Regions from separate parts of the Homo sapiens genome. Here regions 1 and 2 are each linked to region 3. The links come from fine-mapping of genetic effects on gene expression. A gene starts in region 3. Each other region holds a variant in brackets. All regions are shown on one strand. Distances are between the middles of the regions. Region 1 overlaps ENOX1 (ecto-NOX disulfide-thiol exchanger 1). Region 2 holds the start of LOC124903166 (a long non-coding RNA gene). Region 3 holds the start of LACC1 (laccase domain containing 1).

Evidence for each region. PIP is the estimated chance that this variant, and not a neighbour inherited with it, causes the effect.
Region 1: its variant is fine-mapped to the expression of LACC1 in whole blood (INTERVAL, PIP above 0.99).
Region 2: its variant is fine-mapped to the expression of LACC1 in atrial appendage (GTEx, PIP above 0.99). The same link has a PIP of 0.9 or more in left ventricle.

The regions. Positions count from the first base shown.
Region 1 is chr13:43,700,961-43,709,145 of GRCh38, forward strand. The region is part of intron 1 of ENOX1 (ecto-NOX disulfide-thiol exchanger 1); the gene reads right to left. Among named protein-coding and RNA genes, the nearest start is that of ENOX1, 82 kb to the right of the region's middle. The variant T/G (reference allele first, on the strand shown) is at 4,579.
Region 2 is chr13:43,810,808-43,818,992 of GRCh38, forward strand. LOC124903166 (a long non-coding RNA gene) reads left to right here and starts at 375. Exons shown (of 3, transcript XR_007063773.1): 1 at 375-606; 2 at 1,775-1,835; 3 at 3,458-4,009. The variant T/G (reference allele first, on the strand shown) is at 4,536.
Region 3 is chr13:43,875,527-43,883,711 of GRCh38, forward strand. LACC1 (laccase domain containing 1) reads left to right here and starts at 4,378. Exons shown (of 7, transcript NM_153218.4): 1 at 4,378-4,593; 2 at 5,426-6,021; 3 at 6,659-6,837. The coding sequence starts at 5,460. It overlaps CCDC122 (coiled-coil domain containing 122), which reads right to left and starts at 4,214. Exons shown (of 7, transcript NM_144974.5): 1 at 4,105-4,214. RefSeq lists a silencer at 4,116-4,265.

The DNA.
Region 1 (8,185 bases), 170 kb before region 3:
TTTTTTCTTATTATTTTAGTTTTTCACTCTTTAAAATTATCAGCATTATTTTCTACAATTCACTTGCTATGTATTTCATCTTCACATCATTTCAATACTGGAGGTACAAAACTGTAGAGACCTTTAGAGGGTTCCAATTAGTTTTACGCATTTTTTTGCAAGAGACTCCACGAAAGTGCATTATCACAATGTTAATTTTTGTTTGTAAGCATTTGTGCATGTACATAAAAACACTGAAATTTCCTCAATAAAGAGATGTACTTTTTGTACACGTGCATTTGTAAAAAATAACATTTCTCAAGATCTCAGCAATTTGTGTGACTGTATATGTTGTGGTGACCCATCTTAGTTTTTTAACTAATCTCCTCAAAAGACTTAGATTGTTCATCACAGTATTTCAGATGACCACAGGTACAAAGCTGGGTGCACACGGTTACAAACCACAATGATATGCACTCATTATTTCCCTTTTTACCTATTTCTTTATGAATAGGGTTTATCTGCTCATAACTGTTATACCCATGCAATTATTGTGTGTATACCTTAGTGCTTACACAAAATATCTATGTTAGTATTGTGTATTTTATTGTGTAAGGTAACCTATGAAGTGTTCTGTCATGTTTTTATATGTTTCATAAATAAATCCCCTTTTAAAATGCAAATACATATCTTTTAAAGAATTTTTAAATTATTTTTTCCAGAACTATATTTTTGGGATTTTTATCTTTCAGGATTGTGATTTTGGGGATTTTAGACTGAAGGAATTTTATCTTTTGGGATTATGGCATTTGGAATTGTGTCTTTTGGAATTATAATAATCTTCCCAAGAAACTACAATAGTATGATACCCTTATACAGACTACAGACCTTATTCAGATTTTGCCAGCTTTTGTATGCACTCATTTGTACATGTGTATGTATGTATGTATATATATAGTTTTACATAGGTGTAGTCCCTGTGTAGATTCTGATAACCATCACTGTAATCAAGAAACAGCATTCTTCTAACCCCACCAGGGAACACCCTTATGCTACTCCCTCCATCCTATCCCTATCCCCTGGCCACCACTAATGTGTTCTCCATCTCTATAATTCTGTCCTTTCAAGAATGTTATATAAATGGAATTATACACTATGAAATTTTTTGAAACTAGCTTTTTTCACTCAGAATAATGCCCTTTAGACCCAGCCAAGTTGCTGCACGTATCAATGGTTCATTTGTACTCTTTTTAGTGCTCTGAAATATTACTCTCATTTTGATCATCATACAAATTGACTGAATGCAGAAATATCTTGTTGAGGTTTAAATAGATAGATAAATAGCACTTCTCACAAGTTCCAAAACAAATTAAAAGGCAAATGAAGCAGGCAGATAGGGGATAAAAAGATATCAATGCTTTACTGTTCAGTCTGATTGAAGAATATAGCTTTATATCTGATGCCAGAGGGGTTGGCTAATACTCTACTGCAGGATTAAACTTATCCATTGGCATAGATGGAAAACTACTGGCAGGCAAATCTGGAAGAACGGGGCATGCTGAATTCCTACTCTGTAACTCACCTTTCAGGTAATGCTATAGTCAAAATGTGTCCCCCCAAAACTCATATGTAGAAACTTGGTATTAATAGATGGGGCCTCTAGGAAGTGATTAAGTGATGAGGACAGAGCTCTCACAAATGGGATTAGAGTTCTTATAAAAGAAGTCTGGGCTGGGCGCAGTGGTTCATGCCTGTAATACCAACATTTTGGGAGGCCGAGGTGGGTGGATCACTTGAGGTCAGAAGTTCGAGGCCAGCCTGGCCAACATGGTGAAACCCCATCTCTACTAAAAATACAAAAAAATTAGCTGAGCGTGGTGGCAGGTGCCTGTAATCCCAGCTACTCGGGAGGCTGAGGCAGAAGTATGGCTTGAAGCCGGGAGGCAGAGGCTGCAGTGAGCTGAGTTTGCACCATTGCACTCCAGCCTGGGCAACAAGAGTGAGACTCTGTCTCAAAAAAAAAAAAAAAAAAAAAAAAAAAAAAGTTTGAGGAAGCCCTTTTGCCCCTTCTGTCAAGAGAGGACACACAGAAGGCACCATCTATGAAAAACAGGCCTCTACCAGACAGCAGATCTGCTGGCATCTTGATCTTGGACTTCATAGGCTCCAAAACAGAAAGCAATAAACTTCTACTGTTTATAAACTACCTATTCTATGGTATTTTGTTATAGTACCAGGCACAGACTAAGATAGGTAACTTTAAATCCAGGAGAGGAATGACTTGGGAGGCATAGAAAAATGGGTAGTGTTCTTTCCATATTTTTCCTTCCTCAGGTGCAGTGTGTACATTCTGTCCTCTGTAGAAACATAAAGAGTATGGAATAGACATTGTAGCCAACAATCTAGATTTTCTCCCCCTTATCCCTTTCACTGTCTTTTAGTTTTTCCCTTCCATTTATGGGCAACCAGAAATGTTGCTATTCCCCTGAGTGAAGACTGCTTTTCGGGGCCATAAATCCAGGCAGCTTTAGATAGTATTCTTAGATACCTCTCTGAAGCGTCTCTGGGAATGTTATACGCTTATCTTCCTTTCTACTTCAGAAGTCCTATTCATAGTCCTATTCCTTTGTTCTATAGAATATCTCAATAACATTTCTTGAGAGTAGATTTTATTCAGTAGATGACAAATTTAAAGCAAAATATATAACAAACAGGCAATATGCTAGGAGTTAAGAGAATTTACCTTAATTTCCAAATGAAGACTTTACCTGTTTTGTTTCCCCTAATGTTTGCCCAAAAAGGAATAACTGACTACTAAAAATACCCTATGCTTACCAGTTCTATAGTAACCTTCCTTTAGAAGCTATTTCTTTATTAGCTTTTCCTATTTTAAAAAATGACATATATGTACATTATATATATATTTTTTTAAAAAACAGCTTTTTGCAATTTATAGCAAAATGGTAAACTAGAACAGGTTATTGTATCCCTTCCTCATGCTCAAACCTGAAAAAAATGACCTTAGTAGCAAAGAACTAAAAATAACAGGGATGGTGAAAGACACCAAGAATAGGTATGCCATTGTATTCTTCTTGATAGAATTATGGATAACAAATTAAGACACCGATAGAGAAAAATAAAAAAGAAGAGTGCACTTTAATAAGTTAGGGAGAATCACATAATGTTGAACTAGTGTCTTTTAAACAAAAGAAAATGTGATGTGTACAAAGGAAATCAGAAAAGAAGAAGAAAAAGTAAAACAAAAAGAAAACATAATAAACAGAAAATATATATGACTAAGATAACAGGAATAAGTCCTGATGTAACAGTATTTAAAGTCATTATAAATGGTATAAGCCCACCAATCAAGACCCTCAGAGAAGTTCTGACTTCTAATAATGGTGGAGTAGCTTATAACAGACTAACACTTTGCTGAAAATAGGTACAAGCTCCACACAAAACATAAAAACAACTTTTTGAAGGCACTGAAGGGAAACCAAATGAAGAAGGAAACTGACCTTTGAAAGAAAAAAAAACAACACACTGGGTAAGATCTACTTTTATACATCTTTTCCCTTAGGACAAGATAGGTGGAATTCAAGCAGAAATCCAGTCTGGTTAGTATGAAGAGTCAGAGGACAGAGTCTGAGGCTGCCAGAGCACTGCAAAAAGCAACAGGGGGTGGGACTGGTGATCCACAACGAAGAAATGCGTAGAAATAAGACCTGAATCCCGCATTTAAATCCTTGGCTGATCACTTAAATTGTACGTACATGCATGCATGGGGCAAGACTCCAAAGAGCACAGGATAAAACGAACCAATGGAAGGCGGAAAGAACCAAATAGAGATTTCAGCAGCTGTATATTTCAGCTGCTAATAATTATTATCTTGAATTTGCAATTTAAGTCCTGCCAGATAGTGGGGGCTTGGCAAATAACTTGGGCTTTCTAGTGACATCACAGAAGGGCCATGAGTTAAGAATAAATACTTATTTGAAGAACTATTTTCCTTACAACTAAAGGCAAAACAAAAACAGTTCTACCCTAACAAAGCCTAATATTGACCAGTAACATAATTGGATATTGGATATTATCCAATAATATGAAAGATATAGGTAAAAGACTACAGAGGATATAAAACATAATACTAAAATTATTTAACCTAAAAAATTCAGGAAAGGAGGAACAGAGAAACAAAATAGAGGAGACAAATGGAAACCAAATAGCAAAATTGCACACTTAAAAACAAATATCAAAAATTAAATTAAATATATGTAACACCCCTGCAGTGAGCCAAGATTGCACCACTGCACTCCAGCCTGAGTGACAGAGTGGGACTCCATCTCAAAAAACAAACAAACAACAACTCTCTCTCTCTCTCTCTCTCTCTCTATATATATATATATTTGTAATATATATATATGTAACACTCCAATTACAAGGCAAAGATTTTTAAACTAGATAAGAAAGCAAACAAATACATGCTCTATTAAAAAAGATGCACTTTAAATGTAAAGATATATGCAAGTTTAAAAAAAAGAATGAAAAAAATACATCAAATATTCCACATATAAGAAAGCCTGTATGGCTATATAAATA[T/G]CAAACAAAGTAGACTTCAAGCCAATGTATATTACCAGAGAAAATGAGGGTAATTTCATAATGACAAGGGGGTGTTACTATAGAGGGCCGTTTCATTAATAAAGCTCAAGAATTTTAACATATATGAAACAAAGACTTAGTAGAAATAAGGGGAAAAAATAGAAACCATTCACATAGTTGGAGATTTTTAACACCCCTCTCTTAGGAAATTATAAAACAACAGACCAAGGGGATAGTATGAATGCAGAAGATTTGAACATTATCAGTGAACTTCAACTTAAAATATATTTTGAATAGTAAACTCAACAAAGCAAAATTCATATAGTACACATTCTTGTCCAGTACATTGAAAAATATTTAATGAGACAGACTATATATTGGAATAAAAAACATCTTAATAAATTTTTAAAAATCAGATAGAATATGTTTCCTGTCTACAAAGTATTTAATAAGATATCAATATTAAGAGGTCTAGAAATTACCAGGCCTCTCAGAATATTCCTTCTAAACAATCCATGGGTACAAAGAAATCATAAGTGAAATTAGAAAATATTTAGAACTAAATAATAATAACATATAAAAATGTGTGAGATTTACTAAGGCAATGCTTAGAAAAAAATCTGTAGATTTAAAAAGCTTATATTTAAAAAAGTAAGAAAGGTTTAAAGTGAATGATCTATGCTACCAAGTTAAGAAGCTACAGATAGAATAAATTAATACAAAGTAATTAGAAAGGAGGAAGCAATAAAATAAAGCAGAAAACAATGAAATAGAAAAGAGACAGTAATGAATATCAGCAGGGCCAATTTGGGTTCTTGGAAAAAAAAAGAAAGAAAGAGGCGGAAGGAGCATACCACAACACAATTTACAATTATCACCCTAATAACAAAATGTGATAGCAATATTACAAAAAAGAAAAATCACAAACCAATATCACTCAGAAAGATGTAAAAGCTGTAACAAAATATTAAGCAAATCAAGCCCAGTAATACATAAACAGATAATACAGCTTGACCATATGGTATTTTTCCCAAAAATACAAGATTAGTTCAACATTCAAAACTGTATCTGATTAACAAAAATATTAACAATATATGGGTAAAAATAAAAACTATGATCATTGTAAGAGATATAGAAAGGACATTTTACAAAATTGAGCACATGATCAAGAAAGAAAAAAAAAAAACAAGCTCCTAGTAATAGAAGGGAACCTGATAAAACTATCTAAAAAAAATCTCACTCTAATATCACAATTAATGTTGAAATATTGAATGCTTTTCTCCTAAAGTCAGGAAAATATCCACTCCTACCACTTCTACTCAACATTGAACTACCAGTCCTGGATAGTGCAGTAAGGCAAGAAAGATATATATATATATATGGCATAAACATTAGAACAGAAGAAGTAAAACTGTTTTTTGCCCCCACCCTCACTCCCGACCCAGACAACATGGTTGCTTACAGTGAAAATTTTAAGGAATGTACATACACATAAAATTACTGGAACTGAAAAATTCCTTTAGTAAGGCCCAATGACAGAAAGTGAATATATGAAAATCAACTCTATTTCTATATACCGGCAGTGAATAACTGAAAATGAAATTTAAAACGATACTATTAAAAATTGCATAATAAAACATTAAATAGAGAAAAAACATAATAACAAATATGCAAGACCTCTATACGGAAAACCAAAAAATATTGAAGAAAAAGAATAAAGACCTATGTAAATGAATAGATGTTTCATGTTTCAGGGAAGTCTCAACATTAAACCGTGACCTGCCCCAAAGTTGATTTGTAGATTCAATGCCATCCCAATGAAAATCACAGCAGGATTTTTACAGAAATTGACAGGTGAGTCTAAAACTTGTATGGAAATGTAAAGAACCTATAGTTATTAAAACAATAAGAACAGGGTGGGGCGCAGTGGCTCACGCCTGTAATCCCAGCACTTTGGGAGGCCAAGGCGGGCGGATCATGAGGTCAAGAGATCGAGACCATCTGGCCAACGTGGTGAAACCCTGTCTCTACTAAAAGTACAAAAATTAGCTGGGCGTGGTGGTGCTCGCCTGTAGTCCCAGCTACTCGGGAGGCTGAGGCAGGAGAATGGCGTGAACCCGGGAGGTGGAGGTTACAGTGAGCCGAGATCACGCCACTGAACTCCAGCCTGGTGACAGAGAAAGACTCTGTCTCAAAAAAAAAAAAAAAAAAAAAAAAACCAAGAACAAAGTAGAAAGATTTACAGGACCTGATTCCAAAATTTACAAAAATGCTATCAGAAAATGTGGTTCTGATATAACGACAGAAAAAAAGATCAATTAAATGGAATAAGGAATTAAGATATGTATGTGGACATATATTGTTAGACTAGGTAGTTAGGCAGACATGAGCAGAGTGGGAGAGGGGTCCCCCTTATACTAGGAATGTCAGGACACCATCAGGTGATGGCTAGACAGTTCTTAAACTGCCTCTCTAAAATAATTGGTTGTAGCTGGTGCCAGGAAAGGCAGTTTCCCAGTAGATAGAGAACACCTGAAGCTGATGATCAGCGGCTTCCTAATAAGATCTCAGGAGTTGGGTGAGTGGGCTCAAGCATGAGCACTAAAAGGCAAACTGGCACGTTTAACTGGTATATGACCTTGCTCTAGGAACATTTGTCTGGTGAGGGAAGAATGCCTCAAGTGAGCATGCGTACAACTTCAATAAGCACATTGGGCATGCAGCCCCTCCCAAGTGCGGACAGGCCATTGCGCATGTCGACAGCCCACCCTAAGGGAAGAATCAAGGTAGAAGTAACACAGACCCTGGAATCATGCCAATGTATAAAGCCCCAAGGCAAAGGTCAAACAGTGCACTTGAATCTCTCAAGTCACCTGCTTGGCCCTCTTCCAGTGTACTTTACTTCCTTTTGTTCCTGCTCTAAAACTTTTTAATAAACTTTGACTCCTATTCTAAAACTTGCCTTAGTCTCTTGCATTGCCTTATGGCCCCTCAGTCAAATTCTTTCTTCTGAGGAGGCAAGAATTAAGGTGGCTGCAGACCCATATGGATTTGGTGCAGCTAACAATAGGACAAATTAATTTTCAACAGAAGCACCAAGGTAATTCAATACAGACAGAAAGTGTGATCTTTTCAACAAATGATGCTGAAACAAATGTAAATCTGTAATGAATAAATAGGCCTCACAATATATAGGTAAAGTAACCCAGGACGATTCATAGAGCTACATATAAAAACTAAAAATATAAAGCTGATAGAAGAAAAAACCTTTATGACATTAGGATGGTAAAGATCTTTCCATACACAAAACCCACTAAGGGTTAGGCAAAACAAAACATAAAAAAATTCTGCTCTTCAAAGGACATCATTAAGAAAATGAAACGGCAAGCCATAGATTCCCAGAGTGGCTTTAAAAAGCAAATAGCCTGTCTATGAGAATTATAGTTTTTAAAATAAGGATATAAAATTACTGGGGTAAAAAGGAAGAAAATATTTAAAATACACATATCTGACAAATGATGTATATACAAAATATAATTTTTAATTCTACAGTTTAATAAAGAGACAACACAATAAGTAATGGACAAAAGAAATAGAACCTTGAGAA
Region 2 (8,185 bases), 65 kb before region 3:
CCCGCCTCAGCCTCTCAAAGTACTGGGATTATAGACGTGAGCCACCATGCCCAGCCTAGATAATCTTTATTGAATATCATAATTTATAAGGTTACAAGCTGGTTAGATATCCTGCCATCATCCTCTTGTAGGATAATGGCAATTGACTTCTTCTCTGCAACTATTTCAAAGAAGTCCAGGGAAATGTATTGCAATGGACAAAACCTTATTGGCCTACATTAATAGATGCTTAGGGCCATGTGTTATACGATTCCAGGGGACAACATTCATGCAGGTGACTTCCTATTTTTGCATAGCAGGTAGGACTCTCAAACCATGAACATAACTGTGCAAGACATACCCATTTCTTTTCTATAACCGAACTTAATTTCTGACTCTAGGATTCCCATCATCCATTTTTTGGAGGAGAATTTATCCTCTGCCTTTCTTGGAAGCCTCCTCCAGCCCCAAATGTGCCATTGCTCTGGGATTTTGCACACCACCAAGTGGATACTGGGAGGAGCCAGGTTTGAGCCATCTCCAGAGGCTGCCTGTTAAAGTGAATGGCCCCCAGCAAGCAGAAGGAGACTGTGGGTCATCACTAGAGGACAGAACCTGAGGAGGCTGGTAAGAGGTCATTTGGAAAGTGTCTCATAGAGAATGGTGCAGATTAGCATTCCTTGGTGGGGAGGCATTTAAATAATCTGCAAATACAACCCAACAGAGACTACATTTTAATGACCATTGAGACAGAACCACAAACAGCAAAAGCTAAGTAAAAAGGCCTTTTCTCTTGCTTTCAGCCCTCCTCTTCCCCACTGGAGGGGAGGAGGGGATGTGGTATTGGGACCTGGAGTTTAGAAGAAGACAGCAGTAGAAACAGCCTGCACTTCCTACTCCTGGTACCCAAACAAAGCCAGAAGTCAGGCTTCAGTTAAGAGGAGAGAAGCTTTAGTTTAAATTAAAAAATTAAAGTAAGACTTATGTGTACCTAAAGATAAGACTGTAGCTGTAGTTGAAAATTACCAGAAATGCTATGGAATCTCCCTGAGATGTTGCCAAGTGGTAGGGAGGATACACCTAGCAGGGCATGGGTGAAGACAGTGGTTTGCTGATTGTATCCTAAAGAGAATGTGCTTATGTGCTTTGTCCCTTCCAGTCTGGCTGCCCTCTGAAGCCTCCCTGTCCTCCTTCCTCCCCAGTCACAACTATTACCTGAAGCCATTCTGCACTAGGCTCCCACTGCCTCCCTGGAGGCTGCATTTGACTCCTCCCTGCTCCCAGGCCTCCCTTTCTTGGGAAACCTCTCTCTCTCTCCTACTTTTTTCAAATTCCACTTGTTCCTGCAAATATTTTTTCCCTTATGTATCCTCTATAAACAGTGTAAGTTCTTCTATGGGCTTACATTTTATTTTTAGAAACAAAAGCCAGAAGGGGCAAAGGCTACTTTACTTTCTACACCTGAAGTAGTGGCTATTGACATGAATATGGAAAGGGCAAAGGACAAATAAAATGGTGAGGAAAAAATATAAATTATATATCAAAGCCATATGCTGTTCTGCTTTGATTTCTAATGGAACTTAGTCAATCTTGAGCTGATTGGGTTTTGCTGTTGGACACAGAACATGAATGTAACTTAAATGAATCACAGCATATTTTATACAGCATATGCTTGCCTTCTTCCCTGTGCTTTATGTGGGCTGTGTAAGAGGGGAAGCAGAGAACTCACCATATTTATAATTAAATAATTAGCCTAATAGCTCTTACATATCTGCCTTCCATGCTCAACTGGAAGCTCCATGACTGCCGAAACTATGTCTGTCTTTTCACTGTGGATCTGAATTTCTTCTCCACAGGTACGTTCTTGTTATATGAATGAGTGAATCTGTCAAAGTGTTAGGTATGTTGGGAGGTGTAGGTCAGGAGTGTGGCAGCCAGGACCAGGCTACTATTCAGCCTCTTTGTGTGAAGAGCAGGGGATTTGGGAGGGGTGAGTAGATCTGGACTAAGTCGTCTCCTGAGATCCCTTACAACCCACCCAACTGTCCGGGGGCTTTCTGATTCAGGGTCAGTCTGGTCTTACATATGACCTGCCATAGCTTTGAGGGTTATAAGATATATTATGATAGGTTTTGTTCAAGCACTTGTCAAAACAAAAAATTACCAGGCCATTTCTTTTCACTTTCAAGAGGCATGTTAAAATGGCATCAACCCATTAGTAGCATTTATACCTATAAACAATAGAAACATCTCAACTTAGTGTCTGCCTTTAAGAGAAAAATTTTAAAAATTAAATTGCCACTTCTTCATATTTATTTAGCATATTCACAGGCTAAAAAAGAAATAATTGCAGGTCTCTTAAAGGCCTTATGGCTTACTCCAGAGTCAGTAGTTTCCAGTTTAACTTGGACTAATGGGTTGGTCAGCTAAGGATTGCTTTGGAGAGGGACTTACTTTAATGATTACAGACAACACTGATTCTTAAAGACTTCATGTTCTGAAAAGCATTATAATGATGGAATGATTATAAATAATAATATTCATAGGACACTTTATAAAGAATCCTGCCATAGTTATGATTTCATGTCTAAACCAACGCAGGGAGTAGCACATGAACCAATGGTGTAGATCCTCAGAGACATGTTTCCCTGCTTCCCGACTCCCACCCAGCCTCTGAGTCTCCATACAGCTTGGACTCAAAGATTCTCTTTTATTCCTTCTCCATGATAGTTAGACCCCCGTGCTCAGTTTCGTGGTTGTTCCAGCACGCAAAGGCTATGGTTTGAAATATCCCAGCCTTTCCTTTCTATTTCATCCATATCCTGCCCATCGTCTCAAAGATAGCTCATCTTGTTCACTCCTTGAAAATTTGTGAAACATATTTGGTATTTCATTATATTAACTCTTTCAGTGCTGCTGAACTGTTTCATCTGCTTCAGGTATTAGTGGCAGGAAGGAGAGGACCATGCCTTGCACATTATGTTGCAGAGATTCCCTTAGTAGATGTACACTTGTTGAATAAATGGTCCAGAATCATACCAATTGGAATACTTTCTTAAATCAAGTTACATGTTTGTATGGTGCCCTAGAAAATGTCTAGCACTTCTTAGGTGTTCAATAAATATTAATACTGCACTTGTAACCTGAGATGTTGAATTTGGTTTTAAAATAAGCCAACAAAGTAAGCAAGCTACTTCCCAGGTATGTTACCTTTTATAACTTCTATGTTTACAACTCTACTACCATATTGAGAGAATAACTGTTTAACATGATGACCCTGTGGTAAAAATCCAAACTCATTAAAAAAGAAAAGTTTGAGTTTCAAGTCAGTTACAAGTAAAATCAAATAAAGGAAGAAAGGAAGGAAAGCATGAGGGAGGGAAGGAGAGAGGGAGGGAGGAAAGAAGAAAAAAAGAAAAATTAAAATGCATTTGACATATTGAATGTATTAATTCAATTGCCAACCATTCTTTTGCAGTGCCTCCTAATCCTGGACAACAGAACATTGCTGGACAACCATGGCAAAGCTGAGCTCAGTGGGCTCACCATGGATTTACTCTGATCTGCATTACTTAGATCATTAATGTCAATCCCTTTTTTCCCAGTAGCTTTATGTCTGTTCACATCATTTCATTCTCAATTGCACTAGCTCTGTGCTTTTACCCTTAGCTGTTATCCTCACCCTCTATCTAAACAAGAGCTCCTTTGATTTCCTTCCTCCTCACTTTAAAATTTTCTTTTGCCTTTGATCGTTCTCTTATTTTTCTCATCCTGTCTCAGGAATGCTCTTTCTTCCCAAGGCTATGCCTTCCTCTCTGTATGGATCCTGTCCCCTCCTGGCTTTCCAGGACTACTGCATGAATTACCTTCTATTTTCTTGCATCTTCAGTGTCACCCTTTTCATGAGCTCTGCAACAGTCCTATTGCCCAAGCTCTAGAAAATCCCCCTCTTAAATTATTGTATTTCTAGCCTTTCATTTACTATCTCATTTCTCAAAAGTGCAATAAACATGTAATTTCCCTTTTTCTACTCTTTTGGTTTGAGGCATATTATCCTTCTATTTCTCACACCTAAGGCCTCAAATTCCACCTGTAAGGGGGTGAGCTTGCACTTAGGTTCTAGGCTAAATCTAGTCACAAGAAAGCAACTAGTGCAGTTAGATTCACAGTTTAGAGTGTCTGTGGAAATGCTTCACCTTGGGATGGGATTCTGCCTGCATTACTGTTACTTAAGCATACTGATGCCACCTGGATATTCACCTGCTTCAGCTTCTGCCTGTTGACCCCTTGCACACTACTTTCTCCCCCTCTCATGTTTGGAAGAATCAACCTCAAAATGTTAACTTCATTATTGATAAAGCCAACTGGGGAACATGTCTTTAGATGTTTGGTCAAAAGCCTTGCTGAGTTGAATTTTCTCCTACAACAGCAGCCCAGAATGCACTCTCTCTGCACTTGGTTTGCAGGCTGGCTTATGGAGAGTCAGGGGTTAAGTGTTCTTCCAACTTTGCAAAAGATAAATCAGTCATCTACTAGGAAAAGAGGAAAATCAGAGA[T/G]AAGCTGAAAGCATTCCTCTCATAATTTTCCATTCCTGGGGAGTAGATTTGACATTTTCTTCCCTTAATGGAAACATGAGTCATGAGGAATAAATGCTCCCTGCTATCAGTCCTCTCTCTCCCTTCTAGGGCTTCTCCTGGTTCCTGTTCGGCCCCCAGAAAGCTTGTCTAATCTTGGCTAGCCTGATCCAGCCTCCACCAGCCCCGATGCTGCTGGTATACACTTGCTCCTTAACCACACATACTGTGGTTTCTGCTTTAACAATCAGCCATAGGATTTTAATTACCCAATCTAGCCACACGTTCTCAGTCCTTTTCTTCTCTAACTTCTCAGCTCAAAAATTTTGAATACATCCCATTTGATTGTGGACAAAGAGGCAATGATCATGGGGTAATGCACTATGTTTTTGTACACTAAGTTTCTTTTGTAAATACCATTGTTTCTGGCCAGGCGTGGTGGCTCACACCTGTAATCCCAGCACTTTGGAAGGCCGAGGCAGGCGGATTGCCTGAGGTCAGGAGTTCGAGATCAGCCTGACAAACATGGTGAAACCCCCTCTCTACTAAAAATACAAAAATTAACTGGGTGTGGTGGCACATGCCGGTAATCCCAGCTACTGAGGAGTCTAAGGAAGGAGAATTGCTTGAACCCAGCAGGAGGAGGTTGCAGTGAGCCAAGACTGCGCCACTGCACTCCAGCCTGGGTGAGAGAGCAAGACTCTGTCTCAGAAAAATTAAATAAATAAATAAATAAATAAAGCCATTGTTTCTAATTTTTTTTTTTAAAAAAAGCTGTTTCCTTAACATTCCAGTATGCTCTATTCTAAGGCTTTTCTAAAAATCAGTATTCATATAAAAAATACTTTCTACTGATGTAGAAGAGGGGTAAGAACTTTGGAGTGAAAACAGATTAAAGCTTGGGTTTGAATTCCAGTTCTGACACTTACTAATTAAATGACTTTATTTAATTTCTCATCACTTTAGTAATTTCATTTCTAAACTGGTGATTAACAGTGGCTAATGTGTATTAAATACATAATGCTAATCACTGAGGGCTTTATATGCATTATCTTATTTAATCTTACAACTCCATGAAGTAATCCTATTATTATTTCCATTTTACAGATTTTTAAAATGAGATTTAATGAACAAAAGAAACTCGCCCAAAGTCACACAACCAGTAAGTGAGAGAGTTTGGAATAAAATCTAATAAAACACATATTTGAACTCAAGTTTATGTAAATCCGAAGTTAAAGCTCTTAAAAGCTGTGCTTTTCTTTTTCTGTACTTAGTATATGCAAAGATCTCCTACAGTGCCTTGTGCTGATTATGAAGTCACCAGACAATAGCTGTCATTATCATCACTGCCATCATTATTATAAACAAAACATTACGTTCGAGCTTGGCCATCAGTCTTTTTGCAGTGTTTTTCAATTTGGTTTCTTATTATGGATTCACTAAAAGGAGTCAATTTCTCTTTTTATATGGACACTTTGTAGTAGAATTGAAGATAACAATTATTAGATAAATTGACATGGTGTTATTCATGTACTAGAAGGAAACATTGACATATTTCTTAATAAGCTGAGTATGAGAAAAACTTTCCTAACTATGACACAAAATACAAAAACAGTAAAACAATTGATCAGTTCAACTACATAAAAATAAAACAACTTTTGCATGGCAAAAGTAATATAAAAAAGTAAAAAGACAAATGACAAGCTGGGGAAAATAATTGCTACTTCTGTCACAAACGAAAGATTATTCTGGCATGAAGACAGCCACATTGACCTACAGGATAGAATAGAATGCCAAGAAACAAGCTCTCACATAGATGGTCAAAACATTTTTGACAAGGGGACCAAGACCATACAATGAGGAAGAAACAGCCTTCCACAGATGGTGCTGGGAAAACTGGGTATCTACTTGCAAAAGAATGAAGTTGGCCCCTGCTTTTATACCACATACAAAAATCAACTCAAAATGTATCAAATATTGGGCTGGGCATGGTGGCTCACACCTGTAACTCTAGTACTTTGGGAGGCCAAGGTGGGTGGATCACCTGAAGTCAGGAGTTCGAGACCAGCCTGGCCAACATGGTGAAACCCTGTCTCCACTAAAAATACAAAAATTAGCCAGGCATGGTGGCACATGCCTGTAATCCCAGCTACTTGGGAGGCTGAGGCAGGAGAATCACTTGAACCCAGGAGGCAGAAGTTGCAGTGAGCCGAGATTGTGCCACTGCACTCCAGCCTGGGTGATAGAGCCAGACTCTGACTGAAAAAAAAAGTATCAAAAATCTAAACATAAGAGCTAAAACAATAAAATTACTAGAAGAAAAAACATGGTGGAAAGCTTCATGACATTGGATTTAGCAAAGATTTCTTAGATATGATGTAAAATCACAGGCAATGAAAAATAGATAAATAGTTGAACTACATCAAAATGTCAAAATTCCGTGCACCAAAGGACATAGTAAATGATGTAAAAAGGCAACTAACTTTTTTTCCTTCATTTCAACTTTGGTGAAACTGACAATTATGTGTCTTGGAGTTGCTCTTCTCGAGGAGTATCTTTGTGGCGTTCTCTGTATTTTCTGAATTTGAATGTTGGCCTGCCTTGCTTGATTGGGGAAGTTCTCCTGGATAATATCCTGCAGAGTGTTTTCCAACTTGGTTCCATTCTCCCCGTCACTTTCAGGTACACCAATCAGACGTAGATTTGGTCTTTTCACATAGTCCCATATTTCTTGGAGGCTTTGTTTGTTTCTTTTTATTCTTTTTTCTCTAAACTTCTCTTCTCGCTTCATTTCATTCATTTGATCTTCCATCACTGATACCCTTTCTTCCAGTTGATTGAATTGGCTCCTGAGGCTTGTGCATTCGTCACGTAGTTCTCGTGCCGTGGTTTTCAGCTCCATCAGGTCTTTTAAGGACTTCTCTGCATTGGTTATTTTAGTTAGCCATTCATCTAATTGTGATCGGTGTGCTGCACCCACTGTCCTGCACCCACTGTCCGACACTCCCCAGTGAGATGAACAGGTGCTGGAGAGGATGTGGAGAAATAGGAACACTTTTACACAGTTAATGGGACTGTAAACTAGTTCAACCATTGTGGAAGTCAGTGTGGCGATTCCTCAGGGATCTAGAACTAGAAATACCATCTGACCCAGCCATCCCATTACTGGGTATATGCCCAAAGGATTAAAAAACATGCTGCTATGAAGGCACATGCACACGTATGTTTATCGCGGCACTATTCACAATAGCAAAGACTTGGAACCAAGCCAAATGTCCAACAATCATAGACTGGATTAAGAAAATGTGGCACATATACACCATGGAATACTATGCAGCCATAAAAAATGATGAGTTCATGTCCTTTGTAGGGACATGGATGAAGCTGGAAACCATCATTCTCAGCAAACTATCACAAGGACAAAAAAACCAAATACCACATGTTCTCACTCCTAGGTGGGAATTGAACAATGAGAACACATGGACACAGGAAGGGGAACATCACACACTGGGGCCTGTTGTGGGGTGGGGGAAGGGGGGAGGGATAGCATTAGGAGAAATACCTAATGTAAATGACGAGTTAATGGGTGCAGCACACCTTCATGGCACGTGTATACATGTGTAACAAACTTG
Region 3 (8,185 bases):
CTCTGACCCACAACCTGCAGCAAGCAACCCAGGAGACTAACCCATTATCTACAGTAACCAGTCCAGGAAGTCTATAAATTAGACTTGTAGAAAGTTAAATCATTATCTCTAATAACAATCCTAGGAGACAAACTATAACAATTGTCCCAAATGACCAGTACTGGATTAATAACTGGCATCTTCCCTAACTTTTGTCCCCATTTCCAAGTTGAGACTAACAAAAAGAAGCCATAGAATGCTCCACTTCTAGTTAGCCTGCCTGCAGCTTCCTCATGCTGAGAGCCTCTAATCAGGGCATGCCCACTCCTCTGCCTGCCTTCAACTTTGCTAAAATGCAGGAGATTGTGGCTCCCTCCCTTACAAGGCCTGAATAAATAGCTTTTGCTTGTTCTCATTTGATTGATCTTCATTTATTTCTACACAAGAATCCTTATAAGAGAAAGGTAGAGGGCTACTTGAGACTCAGACCCACATGGAATAAGACCATTTGACGATGGAGGCATGGAGCTTGAAGTCACTTAGCCCCTAGGCAAAGAACACCTGAAGTCACCAGACAACAGAAGAGGTAAGTGAACCACCAAAATGTGCAAGGTGCTGTCAACACCTCAGTTTCATCATCTGGCCTCCGTAACTGTGAGAGAACAAGTTTTTGTTGTTTTTAGTCACCCAGTTAGTGCCAATTTGTTATGCTAGCCCTAGGAAACTAACAGAAGCTTTTAGCAAGGAAATTTGCATCTGCTACATGGCTTTTTCTGGAAAGATCCATAAACCTTAGTGTAAATGGCTTAAAAACAACTGTTTTGTTCTTTAAAATTATACTTGTTCTCATGAGAAGATTTACATAGCATTATAAAAATGTCTGGTGAGTTCTTCAATAGTTCCCTTAATAGCCAGGCACTATCTCTGCCCTCAAAACACTCTAGGCAGAAAGACACACAGTCAATTAAAATGGAGAGGCGCAGCAGCTTATGTCTAAGCCTATCTACACATAACCTCTAACCACTTAACTCACTCTATTACCTTTGTAAGTCATAAGTGACTAATTCCCATATCATGCTAGGAAACTGTTAACTAGTAAATCTGCCTATTTCTGCTCCTATCAATTGACTAGTTCAATCTTATGACTTACTTGTGTTTGTTTGCAAACCTGTTTTTGCCAGTTGTGCTTGATATTGTGCTTTCGTAACTTAATATTGTATAAACCAATGAAATAGTGTGGAAATTGTTGTTTCTTTAAAAATCTATGTTTAATATTTTGGAAAGACCCAACAAAAGTATGTGAGATTAACTGTAAAAGATTATAAAATATAGCGGTGGCTCATGCCTGTAATCCCAGCACTTTGGGAGGCTGAGGCAGGCAGATCAAGAGAGGTCAGGAGTTCGAGACCATCCTGGCCAACATGGTGAAACCCCGTCTCTACTAAAAATACAAAAATTAGCCGGGCGTGGTGGTGCACGCCTGTAATCCTAGCTACTTGGGAGGCTAAGGCAGGAGAATCACTTGAACCCTGTGGAGGCTGCAGTGAGCCGAGATCGCACCACTGTACTACAGCCTGGCGACAGAGCGAGACTTCATCTCAAAAAAGAAAAAAATTACAAAGTATAAATCTGCCCTCAGATTGCTTCACAGGTGCCTTTAAGTTATTTTCCCCTTAAAAGAACAAAATCTTGGGAAATCTTAGCTGATGGTTTATGGGTACGGTTTATGCAAGAGATAGTATGCAGAATTCCAATCAGTAGACTACATGCAAAGAAAAGGTCTTGGATCTTCTCAATAGATGGGCAAATGAACACACAGTTGTTTTAGGTTAGAATACAGTTTAAGGTATTTGTTATATTTTTTCATGATTCTGTGGTTTAACTGACCTTTTTTCTTATAAAAAAAGCCTTTTTTAGATATAATTTACATACCACAAAGTACATCCTTATAAAGTGTACAATTCAATATTTAACCATTTTTTCCACTTATTTCTTGGCTAGGGGCCCAGACTACATCTATGAGAGGGCTTCTTCATATGAACAAAATGTAAAGAAGCTATTAATTTTGCTTGATGAGGGATGGGGATTCAGGGAAGATTATGTTTGAGCTTGAAGAGCCTTGAACAAAAAGTAGCAGTTAGGCATATAAAAAGGAGGGTATTTTGCTAAGTAGAGGAACTGCAAATGTAAAGAATGAAATCATGTGGCCTCCAAAGAACAGCTTTTATTTGAGTGGCTTGGGAATAGGGTGTTTTTATTTTTTCAAACTTAATTATGCATCTAACTCATACATAGAGGTTAAAACAAAACAAAAAAGCAAAGCAAAACATGCTCAGGCCTAACTCCTAGAGATTCTGATTCAATGTATATTTGGGATAGAGTCTCTACATTAATTATTTTTTTTTTCAGTTGCACTTGCAGTTCTGATTTGCAGCCAAGACTGAGAACCACTGGAGTAGGATAGAGTGAAAATGGGATGAGGAAGTGTTAGGACATGACACTAGGACCAGATGGTGAAAGGAAATGGTATGCAAATACAATATAACAAACTCTCTTCCCTGACAACTTCATTCTTTTGAAATATTTTCTTTTTCATTTTTTTTTTACTGCCACTACTTTTGCATGAAAGAATACGAATCCCACCATTGTAAAAACAGAGATAAATGTTTAAAACCTTTGTAACTAAAAGACCTCTGTTTTGCTTGAGGTATTAAGCTGGTGCAAAAGTAATTGTGGTCTTTGTCAATGGCAAAAACCGCAATTACCTTTGCACCAATCTAATGATATTTAACATAAACAAACTCAGGGCAGAGTGCACCTTCTGATTGGGTGTACCATCTACCGCTCGGGGCTCTTTAACAAATGACCAAAGAAAACATGAATTTTGACATAACTGGTGCTAGGGTTATTGAAGGGTGGGTTTCCATTCTGGGTTAGTGCTCCCAGTCTCTAGTCAAGCACAAGAACATGCCTACCCCAGAGGGCTCTTCCAAATTCCCAGCTATCTGAGATTATGAGACAAAGGTTCTTTAGCGCCTACCAAATGAGCAACAATGAAGATAAAAGGGACCTCTCCTTCCATCATAACCAGTTCCCCAGGAAGCACCATTTCTCTTACTCTTGGAAGGTCGGATATTTTTTCCCTTTACCATACACTGGCCTTCCATGTCCTAACTGCTATTTTCAAATAAATGAACGTTATATTCTTGGAGGACAGATCAGGGATGCTAAACTGCACCTTTATCATGATTTTAGGGATGAGCGCCTTTTACTTAAGTCCTGCTAGTGGCACATATTTTAAAAGGCCATAGAGGACATCCGTGTTGTCAACACAAGTGAAGGCGCTCGGAAGAGTGTTGGTCAGCAAGAATCAGCACAAAGACATTGGAGGAGAGACAACAGCTTGTTTCTGGAAACAAATGAACAACAAAAAAACACTAAAACATCTCGAGGGGGCCCCTGACTTGAGCCCTGCATGGGAAAAGCTGCCAAGAGCTAGCATGACAAGGGACTGGCCCTGGGCTGCGGTGAGGAAACCCAGCGTCCTGACCACACTGCTGGGTCAGCGAGGCGTCCCTCAGAGACCGGAAACGCGGACTTCAGCTCGCTTGGGAAACGGCTTCCATTAGCAGAAGGGAGACTGCGGTTTAGTCCCGAGGTCGCTCCAGCAGCCCGGCCTCACGCGACCCACCATTCCCGCCGCCCCCTCACGGTGCCCGCCGTTCCCGCCGCCCGGCTTTCTAACCGGGCCCCTAGTTCCCCGCCCCGTGCCCTCTGGAGACCTGCAGCTCCTGCCGCCCTGCGCCCGCTCCCAGGGCCCGTCGTTCCGCCGCCCTATCCCTCCTCAAGGGGCCCCTAGCTGCCTCCTCGCGACCCTTTCCGGACTCGGCCTGCCCACTCCTGCCCGCTAACCCGCCTGGCTCCCGGGCGAGAGCCCTCGCGCGGCTCTGGTTCCTGTTCCTCTAACGCCGCCGGGGCTGCGGGATGCCGACTCCGCGGACCGCCCAGACCCGGAACTGCTGAGGCAGCAGCGGGCTCGCGGCGCTTGGCTCATCCCGGGATTCCCCAGCTCTCGCGCTGGGCCCGCCGCGTTCGCACCAAGCACGCCAGGCGGCCCTGGCCTACCTCCCTCCCGCCTCCCGGCAGCTGGCACGAGGGAACCTGGCCGTCAGGTTTCCCCTGGGATCCTGGGACGGTATCAGGCGGGGAATCTGTGCGGCCGCGGCGAGGTAGGTGAGGTGAGGCGGGGCGAGGTGGGCGAGGGGGGCGAGGTGAGGCGGGGCGAGGCGGGGCGAGGCGAGGCGGGGCGAGGTGGGCGAGGTGGGCGAGGTGAGGCGGGGCGGGTGTCGTCGCGCTGGGCCGAGCTTACGACTCCAGCTGACCCGCTCGCGGCTGCCCAATTTCGTTGAGGCTCAGGACGAGGGACGGGGCGGCAAATTGTCACAGAGGTCGCCGTAGACCGGTGTGCAACCGAAGGTGAAGAGCGGGAAGGCGAGGACCGAATCGCCTCTGGTGTGCGTTGTCCGACAGGAAGTCCCGAATGGGCTGTGAGCCGCCGGTGGAGGTGCCCGGGCAGGTGCAGAGCCACAGCCTGCGCCCCGTGAGCCGAGGCGGGTAGGAGGAACAGGGACCTGGCGGCGACACACGTTGGGCGGAAATTCACAATGAACAGGGAAGGGGGGACGGTCACCCACTCAAAACTGGCTAAATGAACCTCAGAGGGAGCCCCGAGAGATGGGGAGCAAAGGTTAGGGGAAGCGGCAGGAGAAAACCTTCTTGGGGCAAAGGGCGTCACCAAAGGGGGTCACCGGAGCCCCGCAGGTTGGGGTGGGAGGGCTGGGCTGGAGGTGAGCAAAGCTGCACGGGGAGAATGAATTAAGAAAGTTGAGAGGAAGCCTGTCTCATCCAAATCACTATAGCTTTTGTGGTCATTGCTAAGTGTGGAGTACTGCGCAAATCCTGAAGGGAACTCTATTAGCCATCTCAGCTTTTATCATCTTAAAACGCGAATTTCGCGTGCAGCTCCATTTAGCTTCGTAAACTTAAGCCCCCGCATATGAAAGGATGAGACCTAATATGACAATCATGTCAGGACTAATGATATATCACACAGGTTGACACTCTGCAATTTAAAAACAGGACTTTGTCTAAACTCCACAAGTAATTCCTTACTCAAAAGTTCTGTGTAAACAAAACAGAGGAACTGTCGTGCTGCTGGAAAGATGTACCAGCATTTTCACAAAACGAATTAAAAGATGGCTTTGCTTTCACTGTCATGGTTCTGTTGTGACAGAGTAGACTGGCTTTTCTGGGAGGGGCCTAGATTTACTATTTTAGTTACATTTTAAAATCAGTGTAATTACTTCGTTTTTAATCTACCACAAATTTCTGTTGTAACTATAAGATTTATATAATCTTATATTCTTACACTAATTTTTATTTGCAGGTGATTTATTTGGCATAAAAGTATTCTTTCAAGGATGGCAGAAGCTGTTTTGATTGATCTTTTTGGTTTGAAATTGAACTCTCAAAAAAACTGCCATCAGACATTACTGAAGACTTTGAATGCTGTCCAATACCACCATGCTGCCAAGGCCAAGTTTCTCTGTATAATGTGTTGCAGTAACATCAGCTATGAAAGGGATGGAGAACAAGATAATTGTGAAATAGAAACAAGCAATGGATTATCAGCTCTCTTGGAAGAATTTGAGATTGTTAGCTGTCCCAGCATGGCTGCCACTTTGTATACCATTAAACAGAAAATTGATGAAAAAAATCTGAGCAGCATTAAGGTAATTGTACCCAGGCACAGGAAGACATTAATGAAAGCTTTTATTGATCAACTCTTCACTGATGTTTACAATTTTGAATTTGAAGATTTGCAAGTGACTTTTAGGGGAGGGCTTTTTAAACAGTCCATTGAAATAAACGTAATCACAGCTCAAGAACTAAGAGGAATTCAGAATGAAATAGAAACATTTTTGAGAAGTCTGCCAGCACTGAGAGGAAAATTAACTATTATCACTTCTTCTTTGATCCCAGGTATATTAACCACTAACTGTTGTTTTTACTTTGTACATGGAAAACTAGTCTTTCTTCAGAGGTAGTTCACCTCTTTTTTTCCTCCTTTCTTTTGTTGACTGTTGTGGGCTGATTACTCATTAGCATCAGTGGCAACACAGAGGTGTCATGTTTGGCCCTGTAGTATCAGGGGTGTCAAGGGATAAAGCCTTCAAAGCCACCCCAAATAAATAAATTTGCTTTACAAAAATTTGATGATGAGACAAATAATCTAGCCCTCCTTTGCAATGAGATTTATGACACTGAAAATCTTCTATTTAGAAATTCTGAAATTTCAAATCATTGGCACCTTCATAGAAGAGTAAAATTTAAAACAATCAATCTTACTTCTTGGTTAAACAGTATTTTCTGTGAGCTATATGCTATTAGATATAACAAAGCCAGATGAGACACAATATACCTTTTGAAGAGCAACAATCTCATAGGGAGTGTAAAACAAACACAAAGCAGAATGCCATAAGAACATATGGAGGTACAAAATGCCATAGAAATTAGAAGCCAAATAACAAGGGCAGGTAGCAGTGATCAGGGAAGGTCTAATTGAGAGACTGGTATTTTGAATAGCATCTTTTAAATCTTCACTGCTTATCTTCAACAGATATTTTCATACATGGATTTACTACAAGAACAGGTGGGATATCTTATATACCAACTCTTAGCTCATTCAATCTCTTCAGTAGTTCCAAACGGAGAGATCCCAAGGTAGTGGTTCAAGAAAATCTGCGTAGGTTGGCGAATGCTGCAGGATTTAATGTGGAGAAATTTTACCGAATAAAGGTAAAATTTTGCTTTATATTTTGAAAGATCTAAAGTATATTTTTTACTTTGCTAGTAACTACATGGACTTTAAGCTATTTAACTTTTGTATCTGCTTTTTTATCTAAAGTTTTAGAATAATGCTGTGGTTGTCTTTCTTAGATTTATACACCATAGCCTAAAGATAAGTTCTATTTTATACACACACACACACACGTGCAGATATATATATATATATATATATGCACACACACATATAGTAAGTCATCCTTTAATGTTGATAGGTTCTTAGAAATTGTGACTTTAAGTGAAACGACATAATAAAACCAATTTTACCATAGGCTAATTGATATAAATAAGAATAAAGTTTCTAAGGCATATTTCTTGTCACAAAAACATCACCAAACTTCTAAATAAAGACCAACACATTCCTAGTATTAAACATTGAAATAAATGTGAGCTAGACATATATTTACAAAACAGTAAGAAAGACAAATAAGATAACTACCAAATTATTTCGGTTCAGGGCTTTAGGTAGCTGGAGTCTATTCTGGCAGATCAGGATGCAAGGCCACAACCCACCCTCGACAGGACACCATTCCATTGCAGGGTGCCCTTACACACACACACACGTACTCATGCTGGGACCATGTAGACACCCCAATTCATCTAACATGCACTTCTTTGGGATGTGGGAGGAAGCTGGAGTACCCAGAGAAAACCCATGTGGACGTGAGGAGAAGGTGCAAACCTCACACAGTCAGTGACCGGGTGGGTAATCAATTTTTTTCATTAACATTATAATGAAATGATGTGGAATAAAATGACATTATTCAAGAGCCTACTGTATATTTCATCTGGAGTCCTCAATTCTAAAAGTACAGTTAATTCTCAGAGAGTATACTACCACTGCTCTTTTTGATTTAGAAGAAAGGGAACTGAATGGTGGTAGAGAAAGGCCATTATTTTATAAATCTACTCCAGGAGGAACTAGGGTCATAGTTGATGAGATAATGTCTTGTTCCTTACAGAATTCTAGCTTTACTTGAGTCTTGGAAAAGTAAAAGTATCATTGATTTGTTAATTAACTTTCCTTTACAAGAAAAATTTTCATTTTGTAGAAAGTGCTATAAGAAATGATATACCTATCTTTATGGAAAGATGTTCATTATTCACTATATTGAATTTTATAATGTTAAACTCTGCTTTTCTTTGCATAAACTATCAGAGATTATAATCTAAAATCTTAAATAGTTAAATTATAAGTAAATTTTGTGTTTTCCCATATATAAAAGTGATATATTTAATGAATGCTAGTAATCTTAAACTGGTTATATAATTTTATACTACAATGAGTACCTTCGAGAAA